Linked DNA regions of Homo sapiens: all the other regions are linked to region 1. The links come from fine-mapping of genetic effects on gene expression. A gene starts in region 1. Each other region holds a variant in brackets. All regions are shown on one strand. Distances are between the middles of the regions. Region 1 holds the start of TBC1D30 (TBC1 domain family member 30). Region 2 overlaps GNS (glucosamine (N-acetyl)-6-sulfatase). Region 3 overlaps TBC1D30 (TBC1 domain family member 30). Region 4 overlaps GNS (glucosamine (N-acetyl)-6-sulfatase). Region 5 has its middle 22 kb from the start of GNS.

What was found. PIP is the estimated chance that this variant, and not a neighbour inherited with it, causes the effect.
Region 2: its variant is fine-mapped to the expression of TBC1D30 in whole blood (TOPMed, PIP above 0.99).
Region 3: its variant is fine-mapped to the expression of TBC1D30 in pancreas (GTEx, PIP above 0.99). The same link has a PIP of 0.9 or more in breast, esophagus mucosa and thyroid.
Region 4: its variant is fine-mapped to the expression of TBC1D30 in whole blood (TOPMed, PIP above 0.99).
Region 5: its variant is fine-mapped to the expression of TBC1D30 in whole blood (TOPMed, PIP above 0.99).

The regions. Positions count from the first base shown.
Region 1 is chr12:64,822,577-64,826,694 of GRCh38, reverse strand. TBC1D30 (TBC1 domain family member 30) reads right to left here and starts at 2,048. Exons shown (of 12, transcript NM_015279.2): 1 at 1,662-2,048. The coding sequence starts at 1,815. RefSeq lists an enhancer at 843-1,350 and a silencer at 1,989-2,228.
Region 2 is chr12:64,729,952-64,734,069 of GRCh38, reverse strand. All of the region lies in intron 9 of GNS (glucosamine (N-acetyl)-6-sulfatase), which reads left to right. Among named protein-coding and RNA genes, the nearest start is that of GNS, 27 kb to the left of the region's middle. The variant G/A (reference allele first, on the strand shown) is at 1,762.
Region 3 is chr12:64,874,243-64,878,360 of GRCh38, reverse strand. It overlaps TBC1D30 (TBC1 domain family member 30), which reads right to left. Exons shown (of 12, transcript NM_015279.2): 12 at 1-3,360. The coding sequence ends at 2,573. Among named protein-coding and RNA genes, the nearest start is that of LINC02389, 7.5 kb to the left of the region's middle. The variant T/C (reference allele first, on the strand shown) is at 1,991.
Region 4 is chr12:64,710,071-64,714,176 of GRCh38, reverse strand. GNS (glucosamine (N-acetyl)-6-sulfatase) reads left to right here. Exons shown (of 14, transcript NM_002076.4): 14 at 1-728. Among named protein-coding and RNA genes, the nearest start is that of GNS, 47 kb to the left of the region's middle. The variant A/G (reference allele first, on the strand shown) is at 1,776.
Region 5 is chr12:64,779,272-64,783,389 of GRCh38, reverse strand. It overlaps a transcript of TBC1D30 not described here. Among named protein-coding and RNA genes, the nearest start is that of GNS, 22 kb to the right of the region's middle. RefSeq lists silencers at 2,360-2,459, 2,540-2,819. The variant A/G (reference allele first, on the strand shown) is at 1,697.

The DNA of each region.
Region 1 (4,118 bases):
AGATAAGTTTTTTTTTTCTCCGAAGGAATATTAAGTACCACATGGATCCGCCTCTCTCTGAGGTGGTTTAAACGAAGTCCTGCCCAAACATAGAACGGTGATAACAACGGCCACGGGAGTGTTTCCAGCCCAGCGCACGCTTTAAGGCACGCTGAAAACAAGTGAGGTTGCTGTCCGGACGCGAGGTGCTGAATGGAGGAGCGTATAATCATGACGTTTGCTTGATAACAAAGACCAGGAAATTCGGTCCCGCGCTGACTTATTCTTGCCACACTACAAGGATTCCCTGTATGTCTGACCAATATGCTCTTCTGACTTTTCCGGGGCACCTGCTGGGCATCATGCCGATTGCCTTCTCATAGTGAAACCCAGCAGGGGTTAGTTGGCCAAAACCACAACTATCCTCTCATGATCAAAAATGAGCAAGAGGATTTAACTGAAATTGATTCGCCGCCTGCATGCAAAAGCTTAAACCAGGTCACTTTCACCCCACTTTTCTTTTCTTCTAACAGAATACGGGCAGAGAGAAGGTTTATGTTTCATCTGATAATCACAGCTATTCCGGATTCAGAAATACAAAACACTTACTTTTAACGTGGGAAGGAGATTTAAAAGAAAAAAAAAAGAGGTAAAGGAAGATGGTGAATAAATACTACAGCCTCTGCAACTAGACACTTCCTAGGGGAGAACAACAAAGAAACCACGAGGTTGGGAAAGGCAGTGCCGCATCCCACCCTTTGGGACTCTGCAGCTCGATTCTCCTGCGGCTCTACAGCAGGTCCCCAAGGCGCTGGCGCTGGGGGGCGGGGGCCGGGGACCGTGAACCCGCCTGGAACGCAGCCGGTGCCACTCCAGGGAACAGGTGAGCGCCAAGCACCAGTGAGAGTACAGCCAACTCCCTCTGCAGCCACTCCTTGCCAGAAACCTCCGTGCCCAGGAGCCCGCGCTAGGGCCAGGCTCTTAAAATCCCGGGGAGGGATGCCGGGTGATGGAGCCGACACGGAGTTATGCAGTCTGGAGAAGCAGGGATGGGTAAACACAGGCTGACAGTGGGAAGGGCCTTGCCTAGCACGACCAGGCTCGTTCCTGGACCTCACCTATGAAAAGGATCTCCTGCTGCTCCCCACTCGCACTCACAAATTACAGGCTCCAGTTCGAGCTGACCCCGGCACTCACGCTGAAGGGACTCTTGGGAAAATAACACCCGATTTTGCCTTTGCAGCCACTGTCTTCCTCCTCCGACCTGCAGTGTCAAACCTGTGCCACTCTCCGCCCCCACACACCTCTCGCAAGGTCTGGCTTCCTGCGAGCCTGGAACACAATAGGTGGTGCGGCCTCTGAGGGCCCGGGCAGCCACCCGCACTTCCCCGCCACGCGGAGAAAGCCGAGCACACAGGCCGCAGGGTGGGGGTCCGCGGGGAGAGGGTGGAAGCAGCGGGTTCTCCGCGCCTGGGGTGGCCGCTGCCCCACCCAGGCCCCCGTCTGCCCTCTACCCTTCCAGACCAATCGCTCCCTGCAGGTGCCAACGCGGTGCCCCGCACCAGGTGGCACGCGGACTTTCCCCAGAGCTCCCCGGCCTAGACGGAGTCAGGCTAAGGCAGAAGCGCGGGCAGCCCCGGCGCTACTTTACAGCGCCCCATCTGCAGCCCTGGGGTCCTCACCCGGCTCCAGGGTGCACAGCAGCCGGGGCGCGGTCCGGGAAATGCAGCTGCGCTTCTTGAGCACATTGCTCAGGATGGTGCCCACGCCGCCGCCCTGCCGCTTCAGGCATCTCCCCCCGCGCCTCAGAGACCCGGTCAGCTTGTCCTGCCGCATCCGAGAGCGCCCCGGGCTCTGGCACGGCTACCGTCCGTCTCGGTCCCCGCTACCCCACTCGCTGAGCGGCTGAGCTCGCGGAGCTGGGTGAGTGTCTGCGGCTGACCGGCCCGTGGGAGCAGGGAGCGCACAGCCGGCTGGTGCTGGAGGGTCACGGGGACTTACGGGGCACCGCGGGAGCCGCCGAGCGCAGGGAAGCCAGCAGGCATCTGCAGTGCGGAGCCTGCAAGGCTGAGGCAGGAGATCGCTCGAGGCGGGGAGGGCGGGAGCGAGCGAGCGAGCGAGCGCGTGGGAGACGGAGGCGGCGTGCCCGCCCCCAATCCCGGCACCGCCGTGCGCAGGCGGGGCCGCCCCAGCTCCCCCGTGCCCAGAAGCGCCAGAGACAGGGAGCCAGTGGGCGCGTAACTGCGTTCGGGGACCAAAAGCAGAAACAGAGATGTCCGTGCTTCTCCCAAGATCTGGGAGGGAACAGAGGGAGCACCAAGGGGCGCCAGTCTCAGGGGCAGAACACCCGTAAGGGCAAGCATCCTCTCCCACTTCCGAGCAGTCTCAGAAGGGGCCATGACCCAACCGCAGGCGGCGAGGCACACGCTTCAGCCCGAATTGCGTTGAATTATTTCCTGGCAGATTAGAGAGGCGCGGAGAAAATGAAGGAAAAAAAAATTATTGTTTCTTTTAGAAAAATGGGCTTCCAGAAAAAAAGTGTTCTCTTTTCAAGCAGTATTAAAAAGTAATGTTCCTCATCTCTCCAGCCAGACTTCAGTAGTTCTGAACTATTGCCCATCATTATGGTTTAAAAAAAAAAAAGTCATTCTCAAACGGCAATATTCACCAATAGACTATTTACCATTAAAATGGATGAAAGAAAGGGTGTGGGGGGGGGATATAAAGATACTTGTGTTTGCTAATATTTATAAAAAGAAACACTAAATGGATAAACCAAAAACAAATTAGAAAACTTGTATAGGAGAAGGAACATCGTGGAGGAGACAAGAATGGAAAACTGAGTCCTCTCTTGATGTGCCTCCTGTAGTTTTGGCTCTGGAATAACACTATATTAATAATATTAACAAATTAAATTTTTAAAAAACCAGGATGATGGAACAGCATGCCTATAGTCCCAGCTACTTGGCAGGCTGAGGTGGGAAAATTGCTTAGCCCCAAGAGTTTGAGGCCAGCTTGGGCAACATAGCGAGACCCCATCTCTTAAAAAGACATAAAAATAAAAATAAAATTTGAAAATACATAAAATAGTCTGGGCACGGTGGCTCACACCTGTATTCCTAGCACTTTGGGAAGTCAAGGCAGGAGGATGTCTTGAAACTAGGAGTTCAAAGCTGCAGTGAGCTATGATTGCACCCCTGCATTCTAGCCTGAGCAACAGACCTAGTCCCTGACTATAAATGAATAAATTATTTTTAAATTGTAAAAGAAAACCCTAACAATTGAAAATTAATGGAAACAAATCAACCTAATGGACTATCCCACTTATAGCATAAGAACACAGAAAAAAATAATTCTCTCTTAAGTTGACATAGAACACAATATTATGACTGTACATCAACAGTTGTACATATTCCCAGAGCAAATAAAACTGCAAAGAAACCTTACATTTCATTCAGTAGTATTATTGTTATTAATAATATTCATATTTCTTAAATTCTTATATCCACTACAGGATAAAGCAAATAAATAAGTATGCTAACATCAAATGGAGCCAAGATGTTTTCAGTGTAATAGAAAATATGTGTATAACCAAAGTAATTAAGTTTTCTTTAAAATATTACAATTATATATTTATATGGGAAACACTAGTATGAACTCATTTTTTTTTCTTTTCAAAAAAATACATACATTCATTGAATAGGTTTAGAAGTAAGGACAACTCAGCAGCAATGAACACCCACAGCACCCAGGTTATGGTCTCTAAAAACCATTCCCCACTCAAAGGAACTAAGGCTCCTTTGAGGAGTGACTGATTCCAGGTTTGGGACAGAAAAAGTACAAGATGACCCTGAAACATTTTGATGAGCTCAAAAAGAAAGGAAATGTTTCACAATTAATGGGGTCAAGTCAAAAAGACACAAGAGTCACATAAATAGGCTCCTTCCTATTGGCCAAAGATGAAACAATTTGAACTTGAAAAACAATGGCTGAGCCTGGACAACATGGCAAACCCCCATCTCTACAAAAAAAAAAAAAAAGCTACAAAAATTAGCTGGGCATGATGGCACACACCTGTAGGCCCAGCTACTCAGGAGGCTGAGGTGGGAGGATCACCTGAGGCCAGGGAGGTCAAGGCT
Region 2 (4,118 bases), 93 kb after region 1:
GTTGTCTCAGTGCCAGCTGTTCTGTGTGAGTGGCACAGGCTTGTGAGTTGGGCATAATGAGCTGAGCTGTCAGCAGCCTTGACAGCCAGATCAGTGCACATTTAACTGACTGGTGGACTTAAGCTGTGTGGGAGAAATGGGACAAGGTCATATGTGTAGATGTCAAAGATTGACTATTGACGTTTTCTCCTCTGACTAGTTTAGCTTTAGATTTGGTGGTAGAAGTTCTGCAAAAGGAATTCTAAAAAGGAAAAGGTTAGTAGGAAAACTAGAATGACACAGCACCGTCCCAGGGAAATAGAACTGAACTGGGAGTCAGGAAGACGACCTGTTGGCTTTGGACAAAATCAGCCTTGGTTCCCCTACTTTTGTAAAAGTAAGAGGATGTTAAGCCTCCATTATCAGGTGGAACCAGGTGATGCCCCAGCTTCTTCCTTGTCAGGAAAGCTGGAACTGAGGGGCAAGTCCAGCTGAAGCAACCAAGATATGGGATTCTGCACTTTCTCATGTAGTTACAGTGCTTTTCACTAAATGGATTTGGGGTGCTTTCTGGTATGTTTGGAGCCTTTTCTTTGATAACTCTACAGAAATTCAACATCAGGGTTTGGGTGTCTGGAAACCTGATGTGTTCTGAGAGCCCGTTGCCATCTTGTTCTTTTCAGTAATTATGCAAGTGTCATTCTTTCAGAGCAAGAATAAGCAGGTTCAATGCATGATACCCTTTGATTTAAGCCCCAGGAATTTTTTTTTTTTTTTTTTTTTTTTTTTTTTTGAGACAGGGTCTTGCTCTGTAACTTAGGCTGGAGTGTGGTGGCACAATCTTGGCTCACTGCATCCTCCACCTCCCAGGCTCAGGTGATTCTCCTACCTCAGCCTCCTGAGTAGCTGGGACTATAGGTGCACACCACCATGCCCAGCTAATTTTTGTTTTTTGTTTTTTGTTTGTTTGTTTGTTTTTGTAGAGACGGGGTTTCATTATGTTGCCCAGGCTGGTCTGGAACACCTGGGCTCAAGCAATCAGCCCTCCTCCCCTCATTACAGGCATGAGCCACCACAGCCAGTCTACCCCAGGGTTTTCTAAGGACTTTCATTTGATTAGGATATTTATATACTTAAATCCTAAGAACATTCTCAACCTGAGAAAGTGATTTATCAAATAATTTATTTTTTTGTCTGGGCATGGTGGCTCACGCCTGTAATCCTAGCACTTTGGGAGGCCAAGGCAGGTGTGGATCACCTGAGGTCAAGAATTTGAAACCAGCCTGGCCAACATGGTGAAACCTTGTCTCTACTAAAAATACAAAAATTAGGCCAGGCGCGGTGGCTCACGCCTGTAATGCCAGCACTTTGGGAGGCCGAGGCAGGCGGATCAGGAGGTCAGGAGATCGAGACCATCCTGGCTAACACAGTGAAACCCCGTCTCTACTAAAAAATACAAAAAATTAGCCAGGTGTGGTGGCGGGCGCCTATAGTCCCAGTTACTCGGGAGACTGAGGCAGGAGAATGGTGTGAACCCAGGAGGCGGAGCTTGCAGTGAGCCAAGATCACACCACTGCACTCCAGCCTGGGCAACAGAGTGAGACTCCATCTCAAAAAAAAAGAGGCTGGGCGCGGTGGTTCACACCTGTAATCCCAGCACTTTGGGAGGCTGAGTCAGGCGGATCACGAGGTCAGGAGATCGAGGCCATCCTGGCTAAAACGGTGAAACCCCGTCTCTACTGAAAATACAAAAAAAGTAGCTGGGCGTGGTGGCAGGCGCCT[G/A]TAGTCCCAGCTACTTGGGAGGCTGAGGCAGGAGAATGGCATCAAACCGGGAGGCAGAGCTTGCAGTGAGCTGAGATCGTGCTACTGTACTCCAGCCTGGGTGACAGAGTGAGACTCCGTCTCAAAAAAAAAAAAAAAACAACAAAAAAAAAAAATTAGCCAGGTGTGGTGGCAGGTGCCTGTAATCCCAACTACTTGGGAGGCTGAAGCAAGAGTATTGCTTGAACCCAGGAGGTGGAGATTGCAGTGAGCCGAGATCGCACCATTGCACTCCAGCCTGGGCAACAGAGCAAAAAATCTGTCTCAAAAAATAGATATATTTTTGGTCTTGTCAAAGCTTTTTCTGTTCCAATCCGTAAATGATTTTTTTGTTTGTTTGAGATAGGTGCTCTCTCACCAGGTTGGAATGTGGTGGCTCAAACATGGCTCACTGCAGCCTTGGCCTCCTGAGCTCAAGTGATCCTCCTGCCTTGGCCTCCCAAAGTGCTGGGATTACCAGCGAGAGCCACTGTGCCCAGCCCTTAAATGAATTTTTAAGTTTATACTAGACAAAAGCAATACTGTGAAACTAGTGTTTCTCAAAGTCATCACATTGATGGGTGAATCCATCCAAATTCTTGGTTATATAAAAACCAGAGGTAGGTATAATTCTTTTTAACTCTTCATTCATACTTGGTATTTGCTAGAAGTCTCCCATCTCCTGATATAGTATGCTAATTTTGAGACTGTCCGCTTATTCAAATAAAATTCTAGAAGAGGAGACATTTTATCCATTATATTTAGGGGAGTGTGATCATTATAGATTTCTAGGGAGAAGGAGTCCTGGAATGACTTGTGCTTACGGTACTTGTGCTGAATCTTAGTGACTTTGGATTTATACTGGAACTTACCCCTTTATCTCCAGAGAGCAAAATGCCATTAGAAAGAGCCTCGGCTGGGTGCAGTGGCTCACGCCTGTAATCCCAGCACTTTGGGAGGCCAGGGCAGGCGGATCACTTGAATTCAGAAGTTTGAGACCAGCCCAGGCAACATGGCATTGCTACGAAAAATAAAAAAATACAAAATTTAGCTGGGCATCATGGTGTGTACCTGTAGTCCCAGTTGCTCTGGATGCTGAGGCAGGAGGATCAGTTGAGTCTGGGAGGTCAAGGCCACAGTGAGCTGTGATTGTGCCACTGCACTCCAGCTCGGGTGACAAAATGAGACCCTGTCTCAAAAAACAACAAAACAAAAAAGAGCTTCCCCCCACCTCACCAAAAAAGGAACAAGCCTCCCATTATACAGGTGGTGGCTCTTGCAATTTTTGGTGAGATGACAGTCACCATTTTATATCTCTGGGTTTTTTTATGTTTCCTCTTTTCTTTTAAAACTGCCTTGGACATCATAGTAGTATCTGAGGAACTGGCTTCACCTCATTCATTTTACAGATATCACTGAAGATCTGTTAGTCACACTTCAGGGTCTGTAGATGGCTTGTTGTCTTGATCTCATTCTGGAGATGGTATCTCTCTCTGACCCTCCTTTCCTGCTGTGACCTCTTCCATATTGACATTCACACTTGATGACTGTTTTCCAAGCTGCTCAGTTTGCCTGGGGGTCTTCGAACCAGGAAAATTATCTGTAACAGTGGGTCTTGTATCATCCCTGGAGACATCGTTTTTTGTGTGTGAGGTTTTTCCCCCACTGAGTAACATATGGATTGCCTTTCTCCTGAAGTGCCTGCCTTTGGGCAGTAATACCTGACAGCTGCAGAGTTAGACTAATTGATTCAGGGCCAGGATATTTATCATTCTGCCCTCTAAGAGCTGTCCTGGCCATCAGGAAACCTGGCCCCTGATAATATTCTGAAGCTTTTTTTTTTTTTTTTTTTTTTTGCCTTTCATATCTGTACTTTTGGTTTTGTTTTTAAATTAAAAGTGGCAGGGCTGGGGTGTTTTTGTTTTGTTTTATCTCCCTGTTTGGCCTCTCCTAAGATGATCTAAATGTTCTCAACAGTTTTGAAGACTGTTACTTCCTGTCAGTAAGTAATGGCTTTTCCAGTTATAAGCTGATAACTTTGCTTCAGTGATTTGTGTTTCATTTCTTCACCTATAAACACTGTGTCCAAGGACTGTGATGAGGAATAAATGAGAATAAATGTCAAATGCCTGGCACAGTAAACTTTAGTTCCCAGTTTTTCTCACTTCCTCTTTGTTTCGCTCAATGGATTGTTTCAGTGCTTGAAGATTTTTCTAGCCTGTGACCAAGTGACTTCTATGCTTACATTCTCTCTAGGCCTGCATTATCCACTTGTGGCTGTCGAGCACTTGAAATGTGGATAGTCCAAATGGAGATGTATTATTATTGTGAAATACCAG
Region 3 (4,118 bases), 52 kb before region 1:
ACAGTGTCCAATACATAGGGAAGATAGCAAGTCCATACTGGTCTTTGTACATGCTGTGTGGTAGAGGCTACTGCAGGTTTCTTTATTTTCTAAAGTAGGCAAGGCTCATAAATTGACCAATTCACATTGTGATTACTTGGTACAATGCATGCATGTTATTGGTACACAGAGTGCTTTAATAGGAATCTGTTGGATTTTCAAAATTCTGACAAGGCCATTTTTACCTCAGAGGACTATTATCCTTTCACTTATTCATTCATTCAACAGATACGTATCCCAAACTGTGTGTTACCTCATCCATCCCCTTCTCAGGAAGACCAACCCTGGAAATAGGTGAGAGGAGAGTGTTCACAGGGCACAGCATGTGTTGTTGATACTAAGTTTGTGGACAGCAATGGTACAATCCCAAGGACTTGTATAAGTGGCCTCTACCTCATTAACCATTTCCTTGAACCCAGACCATCAGGGAGCTAGTGAGCTGATTCAAGAGAGGAAAGAACAATTCTCCATTCAAGTCAGACATCCCTCAAGGGGAACATGACTATTCTGACTCATTTGAGAAGGGGCAAAGAAAAGGATATGAGGTGGAAACACTATTATCTGTAAAGTTTAGCTGATGGAAGAAAATGGTGTCATTTGCTTAACTTTGGAAAATGCAGTGGGTCTCTGGGCCCTGAGGGTGGTATGCAAAATAAGCCCATCTCTCCACCTACAGCCTTCCCAAAAAACAGGCTGTAGGCGTGGCTGCTTTTTAAGAAGCTGGATGCTAACTTCAGATGGCACAGAATTCAAGACCAAAACTGCAATAACTTATTAGTCATATTTTCCATCTTCAGTTCCTTTGGGGGTAAAAATACCACGAAGAAGATAAAATGGCTTTTCTCACGGTATAGGTCATTGTTGTGTTTTCTGTTCAAAAAAAGCCCACACAACCACATTCTCTATTATAAAAAGTAGTACCTCTCATAGTAAAAGCCTGCTCTACAGTTACAGTTTTCGTTTCAGAATTAACAATCCATTAGCTCAAATTAATATTGGCTGCATCAACAATATTCCTGCAAGTATCGCCAATCGTCTTCCAGAGACAAACATGAAGGCTGAGTCTATTCCTCTAATGATGGCGAGGAGAAGGGGATTGAGGAGTGAGCCTTCTGTTCAGCCAAATAACAGGTGCATGAAGCATTTTTAAAATAAACTCCCTGTTCAGGATAAGGAAGTCAGAGCTGGTTTTGTAAAATGCCATCAAGGGACTCTGTACCATCTGGAGACAGGTCCTTTGAGTCAGGAGGGATTTTAGTGAATGGCTTCCCAGTCTTGGTTTTTACACGCTATGTAGCCAATACATCTGTGTACAAAGAGCATTAAACCCACCTATTGCACTGAAGGAAATGTGGCTAAGTCACTTGGAATACCGAGAGTACTGACCTTGAGTAACTGAAGTGCTACTTCACCTCTGTGTGGCTCAGAGTTCCCATCTGCATAGTGGAGACAAGAGGTGCTATCCCTGACCCGCTGGGTGAGAGAGAGCTAGAAAGGGCAGGAGTGAGAGGGAGCTAGAAAGCACTGGGGCCTTCTCCAGAGAAAGGCAGTGTTCAATTAACAAAGTACTCAACAAAGGACTCCAATCAAAAAGCACAAAATTCAAGTAACAGAGTCACAGGTGCTGTGTTCTGGCTTCTGAGCAGAGGCCTTGTGCGTCTGCAGTCTAGAGCTGGTGGGTGAGTGAGCTGTGTGGTGGGGGATGCAGGCCAGGCTCCGCATGGAGCCCATCAAGTCATCCGTACCACTGAGGATCAAAGCTCTCCTTGAGAGGCGAACACAAACCTCAGGAAAAGCTCAGTGGCGCGAGCAAGCTGTCCGGAGCAACTGCGTAAAGCATATGCCAAGTGTGTCCTGTGCATAAGATCTTCAGCTGGGTTATCGATTGAAATTTCAACAGATGAAAGGTTTTCTTCATTTTGCAGGTAGAAATAGACAGTTAAAGAAAGGC[T/C]ATCTAGATTTTTCTCCTATGATTTAGCATAAGAATAAAAAAAAAATTTGAAACTGGTACTGTGGGAAATCTCACACGACACAATCCCCTCCGTAAAGCATGAAAAGGAAAATCAGGAAGTTTTTTGTAACGAAGAAACTTACTTTCTTTTTACAGTTTCTGTCCTAGCAAGCTGGTATGTGCATGCTTGAGTATTAGTAACACCCAGAGAACTGGAAGGTTTGGGGGTGCTGTCACAGGGACTCTGAAGGCCCCCAGAACAGAAGGATGGACGAGAGTTAACAATCTAGATATAGTCTTTTTTAAACAGCTCACAATGAAAAATTGGGAAAACTTCACACTATAAAACCACAATATTTATTTTGCCACAAGAATCCACTTCGTCAGTTAGCAAGTAGCTGGGAAAACAGCCCTGTTCTAACTCCTATTATAAAACTTCCAGTTCCCATTTTTTATGGGCTGTTGCTCATCCCTGAACCTATTCATTTTCACTGGACAAATAAAACTCTTTTAGAGCCATTCAGCTGCAACCCTTATACTACTGTGAAAAGGTGAGTCCAGATACAAAGTTTCGGGGAGACATCATCGTTTTTTAGTGCCACTGTTTCCACCGCCGGGTTTGCTGAAGCTCCTACTCATTTGAGGAAAGTGCACAGTTGGGGTTCTTTCTGTAGGGCCATATAATCCCAAGTTCCTGGCAGTAGCAGATTTCCGCAGGGGCTTGACGCTGGGAAAAGGGCTAAAGATGGGGGTTTTTGAGTTGCTGCCTTGGGGAGCTTTGCTGGTGGCTTTGTTTTCTTCGGGTGCACTCGGCGGCTCTGGGCAGTGCCGCTGGCAGGGTGGGTGCACCCTGAGCTCAGTTTCAGCTGCAGCATCCCTCTGGTTCAGTTCCAGGGCTCCCAACTTCGCCTGAACTGCAGACACATCCACATCAGCATCTCCGAACACCGGCTCCGGAGACTGCCCCTCGATCGTCCTCCTGGTACTGCCTTCAGGGCTGCTGCCTTCTCTCCCAGCTGTCGCTGTACAACCAGAGGGGAATGCCTCTGCTGCCCCCAGCCCATTGGTCTTGCTGGCCTCGTTCTGCTCATCTATCAGCCCTACGGTGTCCCCACAGCCCGGATGACTCTTGGTCCTTGGCATGTTCTTTTTGTGGACTCGGATGTGAGTTCGCCACGGGGAGTTGAGCTTCGTCTTAAGGTCTTCGTAGGGGACAGGAGATATTTTCCCTCCTGTGTGACCAGGGATGTGGATGACAGCATTCTTGGCAGCTCTGTTAGTCATTTTCATCTTCTTTCCTAAAAGAAGGTGGTTTATAACTGGAGAACTGTTTACCTGAGACGGGAGAATGCTGGTCACTGGCCCTTTGTCTGAAAGAAATGTTGAAAGGTAGTATGAAGTGTACCACAAAGAAACACATCCATCTTGGAACAGAAATCACTTAGAGGTCCTCCCAGCCCCGTCTACCACATCCCTTCCCATGTGTTCCCCAGGGAGGGGCAGAGTCATGTGACTGAAGACAGCAGAAACTGAATTCAACCGAAGAGCCTGGAATACCAATGCGCTCTTCTTTAAAGAGGAAGGGACCACAGGGTGATGATACAAAAAGGAACATCTGACCCCTCATTCCTAATCAGAGCCTGGACTCCCTAATTTTTTTTTTTACAGAGAGCTCTTGGCTCTGAGTAGCAACCTCTGAGTTACTGTACTTAGAAAAATCTTTGCAGATTTAAAAAAAATAATACAACAAACACTATGACCATATGGATTATCATCTGTCAGCCTCTGAGAGGTAGGAAAAGAACACACTGCATATTATGAAGTGAGATCCAGCAGAATGACAGAAGTGATAAAAAGGTAGTGAGAATGCAGTGAAATCACAGCTATCCAGCATCTAGCCCTACAGGTGAAAAACCACTCCTGTGTCCTCAATGGACTTCGAAAGCCAATTGAAAACTGAAAAGCACCAAAAGCTTTGTCCTCAGCTAGGTGCCGTGGTTCATGCCTGTAATTCCAGCATTTTGGGAGGCCAAGGCAGGAGGATCACTTGAGGCCAGGAGTTCGAGACCAGCCTGGCCAACATGGTGAAACCCTGTCTCTACTAAAAATACAAAAATTAGCCAGGTGT
Region 4 (4,106 bases), 110 kb after region 1:
GCATCTTTGAATTTGACAAATGGTGCTGTTGCAAACACTTTTTTTTTGAGATGAAGTCTCGCGGTTGTCACCCGGGCTGGAGTGCAGTGGCGTGATCTCGGCTCACTGCAACTTCCACCTCCTGGGTTCCAGCAGTTCTCCTGCCTCAGCCTCCCAAGTAGCTGAGATTACAGGCGCCTGCCACCCCACCTGGCTGATTTTTGTAATTTTAGTAGAGACGGGGTTTCACCATGTTGGCCAGGCTGATTAACTCCTGACCTCAGGTGATCCACCTTTCTCGGCCTCCCAAAGTGCTGGGATTACGGGTGTGAGCCACCGTGCCCGGCCTGCAAACACATTTTAATTGACAACACTAGGGCTGTTGTACAAAATAGTAATGATAGCCATGGAAGTTTTACCTTATTCTGTGAGAAGTGTTCTTAAACTTATTAAGTGTCTAAACTAAGGTTTAGTGCTTTTTTAAAGGAAAGTTGTCCCAGGATTCATCCTAAAGAAAGCAAAAGTTAATTCAACTGATCCACCAATGGAATTAGATGGGTAGAGTTGGGTTCTTGAGTTTTACCACCACTTAGTTCCCACTGAATTTTGTAACTTCCTGTGTTTGCATCCTCTGTTCCTATTCTGCCCTTGCTCTGTGTCATCTCAGTCATTTGACTTAGAAAGTGCCCTTCAAAAGGACCCTGTTCACTGCTGCACTTTTCAATGAATTAAAATTTATTTCTGTTCTAGTGGGAATGTGTCCTTTGTTTTAGTTCACAAGTAGTAATTTTGACAAGATGCTTTCTTCTGATGCAGTTTGTTTTAATCACTCACCTAGTACTGGAAATGGGCTTTCTAGTCAGATCCTATAGTCTCTACCTGTATAGCTCTTACATACATGGCCCCTACTGATAACCCCTGAATGAAGCACCATGTAGAAAATATTTCCTGATAAATCTGTATGTATTTACAGCTTTGGAGAAAAAGTCTTATCTTGGCTGGCTTTCAAACAGACTAGGCTCGCCTTCAAAGGTGCTTTGCCATGTGATCCATTGCTCTAGATGAGGAATGACTTCTTACGGGGTCAACAAACTTCTTATAGGGATAGACGGCCAGTATTTTAGGCTGCCAGGCCATGTGTTCACTGTCACAGCTATTTACCTCTGCTGTTATAACACAAAAGTAGCCATAGAAAATGGATAAGTGTGTGGCTGTGTTCCAATACAATTTTATTTTCAAAAACAAGTAGGTCATAATTTGCCAACCCCAGAGCTTATAGGTTGCCTCATATCTTAGCAATTCTGAAGACCACATAGAAAACAATGCTAGACACTCATAAAATTGCCAGATTACTATCAGAAAAACAGGTGATTTGGGCCAGGGGCAATGGTTCACGCCTTTAATCTCGGCATTTTGAGACCCCAGCAGGAGGATCACTCGAGCTCTGGAGTTGGAAGACCAGCCTGGGCAACATAGCGACATTCTGTCACTATAAAAAATATTTAAATTGTAAAACTGAAAAATAATAGGGGATTTGGATATATCACAATTTTAAGGTCATTTATTAGGGTCTGGGATTTGTACCCTTCTTGCAAGCTAATTAAGTAGGTCTGTTATTTCATGAGACTCCTGGGATAAAGACAAAGGACTGTAGTACAGCACAGCAAGCAGTAAGAGCCTGTCAGTTCACACTTAACACCCAAGTCCTACAGGTATGATGCAAAGGGCCCAGAGGGATGCCTGCACATGCAGTGGGTTTTGTTACAGGAAAAGAACATTAGGCTTGGGGAGGCTTC[A/G]TCCAGGCTGGAGTGCAGTGGCGCAGTCTTGGCTCACTGCAACCTCCGCCTCCTGAGTTCAAGCAATTCTTGTGCTTCAGCCTCCTGAGTAGCTGGGATTACAGGCACACACCACCACACCTGGCTAATTTTTGTATTTTAGTAAAGACGGGGTTTTGCCATGTTGGCCAGGCTGATCTCAAACTCCTGACCTCAGGTGATCCACCTGCCTCGGCCTCCTAAAGTGCTGGGATTACAGGTGTGAGCCACCACACCCAGCTGAGCCTGCTGTTTGTTTGTTTTATAGCAAGCACTGAGCGAGGCTGCTCTTTGTTCCAGAAGGAGACATTAACTTATCCCTCAAACTGCTCACTACAGACAACCCTGAGGAATGGCCAGCATAAAAAGTGGTCAGCCTGGCCAACATGGTGAAATCTCGTCTCTACTAAAAATACAAAAATTAGCCGGGCGCAGTGATAGGCACCTATAATCCCAGCTACCTGAGAGGCTGAGACAGGAGAATTTCTTGAACCCGGGAGGCGGAGGTTGCAGTGAGCCAAGATTGCACCACTGCACTTCAGCCTGGGTTACAAGAGTGGAACTCTATCTCAAAAAAACGGTCAGGACCTTGTGTTCTTGGCATATCCAGCAAGGAGGTGCAAGGATGCTTGGGGTTCATAGTGGATTGCCTCTCCCAACAGCTGTCAACTGTTCAGTAGCAGGGGATCACCTGGCTGGATGTTTCTTCCCCCTCCAGAAGGGCTAGAATGCTAGATCAGGCCAAGAATAGCAATTGTAGACCTAAATGCTTAAGTGAGATTTTTTTTTTTTACCTGGGACCTAAGGCCAAAAGAAACATGGGAAAGAGAAGTGGGTGCTGGCCTTCCATATTTCAAGACAAGACATCAAGAACTTAAAGTGATGAAAAGGGAAAGGATAACAAGATTAAGCATCGGGTCAGATTTAGTGTTGAGAGCTACCTGGTCTGGCCTTTGTCTAAATACTAGAGAAAGGTGGCAGAGAAAGAAGAGCCCCTGTGATCACTGACCAAATACTAATAGAAACGCAAGATGGTACAGAGCACCCGTAAAGTCACTAAATTACCATCCTAAACATTGGAAATTTGATTACATCACAGTCAAGCCATCAACAAGGAGGAAGAGAATCTTCACTTGCATAGACTCGGAATGAAGATAAATACAGACTCCATTAGATCCTTTTTTTTTTTAACTTATCCCAGCTATTCCCACTGAAACTGGTGCCTGCCCTGTAGAACCAAATTCCCTACAGAAGTAGTGTTTGTTTCATCTTCCTCTACCACCAGTGGATTTATTTTTATTTTTTGAGACAGGGTCTCGCTCTGTTGCCCAGGCTCGATGCAGTGGCCCTATGTTGGCACACCACAACCTCTGTCTCCCAGGCTCAACTGATCCTCCCATCTCAGCCTCCCAAGTAGCTGAGACTAAAGGCACACACCACCATGCCCAGCTAATTTTTGTATTTCTAATAGAGACGGGGTTTTGCCATGTTGCCCAGGCTGGTCTTGAACGCCTGGGCTCAAGAGAGCCATCTGCCTTGGCCTCCCAAAGTGCTGGGATAATGGGCATGAACCACTGCACCCAGCCACCACCAGTGGATATAAAGGGCTGGTAATATGTATACACGAAAGTCTGTTGAGGCAAGAGCTGACAACCAGAGAACCCAAAGGATACAAGCTAAAAGCATCGTGCTGAGATCTCTATTGATGGCCTAGAATCACTGAATAAGACAAGATTTAGATGTGGGACATGGGAGCTAGCTCCTGGAGTATGGTAGAGTAGATGACAGTTCTAAATCTTTTTTTTTTTTTTTTTTTTTTTTTTGAGATGGAGTCTTGCTCTGTCGCCCAGGCTGGATTGCAATGGCGCAATCTCGGCTCACTGCAACCTCCGCCTCCCGGGTTCAAGCGATTCTCCTGCCTCAGCCTCCCGAATAGCTGAGATTACAGGCGCCTGCCACCACACCAGGCTAATTTTTGTATTTTTAGTAGAGACGGGGTTTCACCATGTTGGCCAGGATGGTCTCCGACTCTTGACCTCGTGATCTGCCTGCCTCGGCCTCCCAAAGTGCTGGGATTACAGGCGTGAGCCACCGCGCCCAGCCTTAACAATTCTAAATCTTAGTCTTTGAGAGGAAGATTTCATGATCACCTGCTGGTGAGACTGATATCCATATATGTCATCATAACCTGCACCTCTAACTGATGATGATAGGTTCTCAAAGGATAGAGAGATATAAAGATGCTTGTAATTATCATTTTAGGAGGATAAAACAGCTCCATAAGATAGATTTATTTCCCTCAGCTTAATTTAT
Region 5 (4,118 bases), 43 kb after region 1:
TGAGGTAGGTATTATTATTATCCCTATTTATAAGAAAGTGAGACACAGAGATGTTAAATAGCTTGTCCAAGGTCACACAGCTGGTAAGGAACTGCGGCCGGATATCAACCCAGGAGTCTGACTCCAAAATTCATCCCCTTAACCAAGGAAATACTGAAGAGAGCCCAGATGTCCTGAGAAACCATTCTGGTGCCTCACCTAAAGGACCTACACATGTTAAATATATAGCTAAATAAGTGCTACAGCAAAATCCCTGGCAGGGAGAGGAGACAATACACAGGCTATCAGTATTGTATGACATTCTTACTGAATGCAGAGTAGTTATATTGGGGGGAATATTTTTTGAGCCTGAGAAAAAGATCAAATAACCTGATAAGCAGCATTCTTTACGCAGACAGCTGTATCATCACCTGATACTTTAATCTTAGCACGCGAATGATGTTATCAATAAAGGGGAGAGGGAGCATGTTAGTGTGTGTATGTGTGCACACGTAAGCACGCATATGTGTGTATAGGACTATTATGATATGGCATTTTGTTCATCTTAATAGGGTTGACTACAAGGGAAGAAAGGTTTAACCAGCAACTAGCTATGCAATAAGACCGAACAGGCAAAACGAACTATTACAGGGCTTGTGGATGGTTAGTTGTGTGGCCACTCATATGAAATCCACTTGCATAGTTAGCTGTACCGTTACTACTTCTTTAAACTTTAGTCTGCCAATTTTCCTCTTCAAAAAGGAAATTACTAATCCCCAGAATTCCCTCGGTGATGAAAAATGTAAAACCTTGTAAAAAGAGAAATCATAATTCTTCAAAATTGATTCTGTTGGAGTCTGAAAGAACTATTGCCCTATGGGACTTGTGGCATACACAGACACTCTGAGAACAACCAAATAATTCTATAAAATGAAATGGCACAGCTACAGCCAAAGTCCCAGGCAGGGGGAGGAACCTGGAAGCTATCTGTAACAATCAGCTGGGGAAAAAAAAAAAAAATCTTCACTAGGAAGTCAAAAGAGGAAGCTAAAAGCTGTTTACGTAGGTCTGAGAAAGCAGACAGATTTATTCTTTTCCTAGGTTTTTTTTTTTTTTAATACAGTGAGGAGATGGGAGACTCTCCTTCCTCCCTCCCCTGGTAACTCAGCCCAAGGACATTACTGTCAAGAAATGTTATGGTGGCTCGGCATCTGTTTTCCATACGTCACCTCATTTTGTAAATGGAGGTCTTGATATTTCTATACCAAAAAAGACAACTCTAATAACTGTGTTACTGCCTGAAAGGCAAGCTATTATGACCAGATGAAAAAAAAAAGTGTGACACGAGCTCAAGACACGAGCATCAGAGTCTCATAACAAAAGAAACACCAAATTAGCCTCTCTCCCTGAAAGCCAAGGCCATTTTCTCAGGTCGACCTCTCCATGCCAACTGAAGGTACCAGCAGTTAAATTCTGTAATAAACCTCAACACTCTAGGGCCCTCCACTAACCTGCCACCGAGAAGGAAAAAAAGAAAACAAAACAACAACAACAAAAATTCCTAGTGAGCTGCCTGGAACCGTACGCTCTGGCAGAAATAGAATTCACACGCTCTGCTTCGAAACCGCATTATCGAATTATTCTGCCTCACTAGTTAAACACTAAGTGGTGTGACCAGAGAAGGCGGACTTTAAAAACAAAAAAACAAAAAAAAAAA[A/G]AGGAAAGAACAGCCCTACGACTCGCCTCGATTCTGGCGGCGCCCTCTAGGTAGGTCAGGTATACGTATCAGAACCTCCAACCCTGTCCTAACAGCTGTTCAGGTGAAATTAGAATCTGGGCTGCCTCTCCCCTGGGGCCTCCGCGAACACACCGGGAGATGGGAGGAGGGAAGAGCGGGGAAACTGCCCACTCCATCAACTGACGCTTGATTCAATTACTCCGGAGAACTTAAGAACTAAGTGTGGACATAAATCTGTGCCACGGTGGGTACCACCGTCAGATCCAAAGAGACAGTATCTGAGCGCTCCGCCGAGCAGCCCAGGTGCGCGCTGGAGCGCGGGCAGAGACGGCGAGGACAACCCGGCTCCAGGAAGCCCCCGGGACCCTGCTGCGCCCGGCCCTCACCTTTCTGCCGCAGGTACAGCATCTGATGCCGCTGGCTCGGTCGCTCCTGCAGCTCCTGCAGCACGCGGGAGTCGCCGGCACCGCTGCGGCCGCCCAGGACCACGTCGGAGCCCGAGGCCTCGGTGGAGCTGTCGAGGCTGTCGCGGCGCCGCCGGCGGCCCTCGGCCCCGCGGCCCCCGCCCGCCGCCTCCTCCTCCTCTGTGCAGCTGTACAGCTCGTTGAGCAGCCCGCTCACCAGGGACGCCGTGCGGCTTGTGCGGCCGCCGCACGCCTCGCCGGGCTCCGTGTCCTCATCGCCGTCCCACGTGTCCCGGGAGCGCCGCGGCCGCTCCGCCGCTCCCCGGAGGCGCGGGGCTGGGGGAGCTGCAGGAATCGTTTCTTCCTCCTGACTCTCCAGCCTCGCCTCGCCACCGCCGCCGCGGAATTCCAGCTCCGTCCGGAGCCCCGGGCGGCCCCCGCCGGTGGGAAGGACGTCCATGGTCCCCGGCGCGCGGCTGCCCGGCTCCCGCTGCTCCTCCCGCCTCGCGGCGCCGGCCAGTTCCGGGAGGAGGCGCGGCTTCGTCCTCGCCGGTGGTGCCCTCCCGGGCGCGGCGCCAGCGGGCTCTGGATCCCCGAGGTGCCCGGGCCTCCCCCGAGCCGGCACCTGAGCCGCTCCCCTCCGCTCCGGACCGGGCGAGAAGGAGACTGCCACGCCACTGAGCTACCTGGGGCCACCTGCTGCCCGGGCCCGGCCTCTACCCAGAGCGCTCTCCCGTGCGCGAGAAGGCGCAGGACGTGGCCAGAACACCGTTGGGAAGAAGCCAGCAGCACGGAGGGGGAGGGCGCTGAGGCCGCCGCCACCTTCACTTTTAATTAAGCACGTGATTTAACTCAAAAAGAGGGTGACTCTTGCCTCTTATTCAGCCGCCAGCTAGAAATAATGCCCAGGAGGGTTCTAAACGCCCATCAATAGGCCCAGGCCAGGAGCTCCTTCTTGACATACTCGGAACACAATACCAGCCCTTCTCACTTTCCCACCTGATCTGAGCGCCTTCAAAAGCCTTCTTAGTTTAGTCTCTGACAATAAGCTTTCTAAAACTCTGAACACCTGGCAAATATCTGGGACTTAATAACGCTGTGAACTTTTTTCCTCCAGTGAAAACCAAAGCACTGGATTAAAATCAACTAATTCCCTGATACAAGATGTAACCAGAGTGAGGGTTTAATAAATGTTCTTGAGATGACCGAACTGATACATTAATTGAGCTAGTTTTGATGATGGTAGAATCAAAAATTTACAAGATACTGTGAGAGATGTATCTTACACTAGACCTCAATAGAACTCGGAACTGCCGCTCCACTGTAGATATTTTTGTGAAGTTAATAATTGGCAACATGTTTAGCGCTTTTTGTATGTCAGGCACTGTTCTTAGAGATTTGCATGAATTATCCCACTTAATCCTCACTTTAACCCTATAAAGCAGTTAAGTGTCGTTATATTCTCACTTTTCAGCTGAGGGAGCTGAGGCACGAAGAGGCTAAATAACGTGTCCATTCACAAAGAATAAAGTGAACTTTTCATAAAGTGTCTGGCTTTCATTATGGATGAATATATATTAGTCAAATGCTATTAAATACTTGACCACACTTCCAAAAGGGGCAACAACACACCTGGTGAACAACACTGGTGTTTCGTGTTTGTTCAGCACAGTTTTGTCTTCCAAGGCACTTTCATAATAGAGCCTGACCCTGCCGGTAGAAATCTGGTGTACCTTGACACCAGCACTGCAATAAAAGGGCCCTTTTTGAAACTGGAGTTAATATGAGACAAGCAGAAGTTGTACTTTTCGCTTAGGTATTCGGAATTTTAAATTATACTGGAAATATTATTTTATGGTTTTATAACTATATTAATGACTATTGTTACCATTTAATGTTTAAATGTATGAAATGAGAGTAGAATTCATTATTATATTGCTGTTTTGTTTTTTGAGGTCTTTTTCCCTGTTGTCCCTGGCATTCAACGAGTTCCAAGT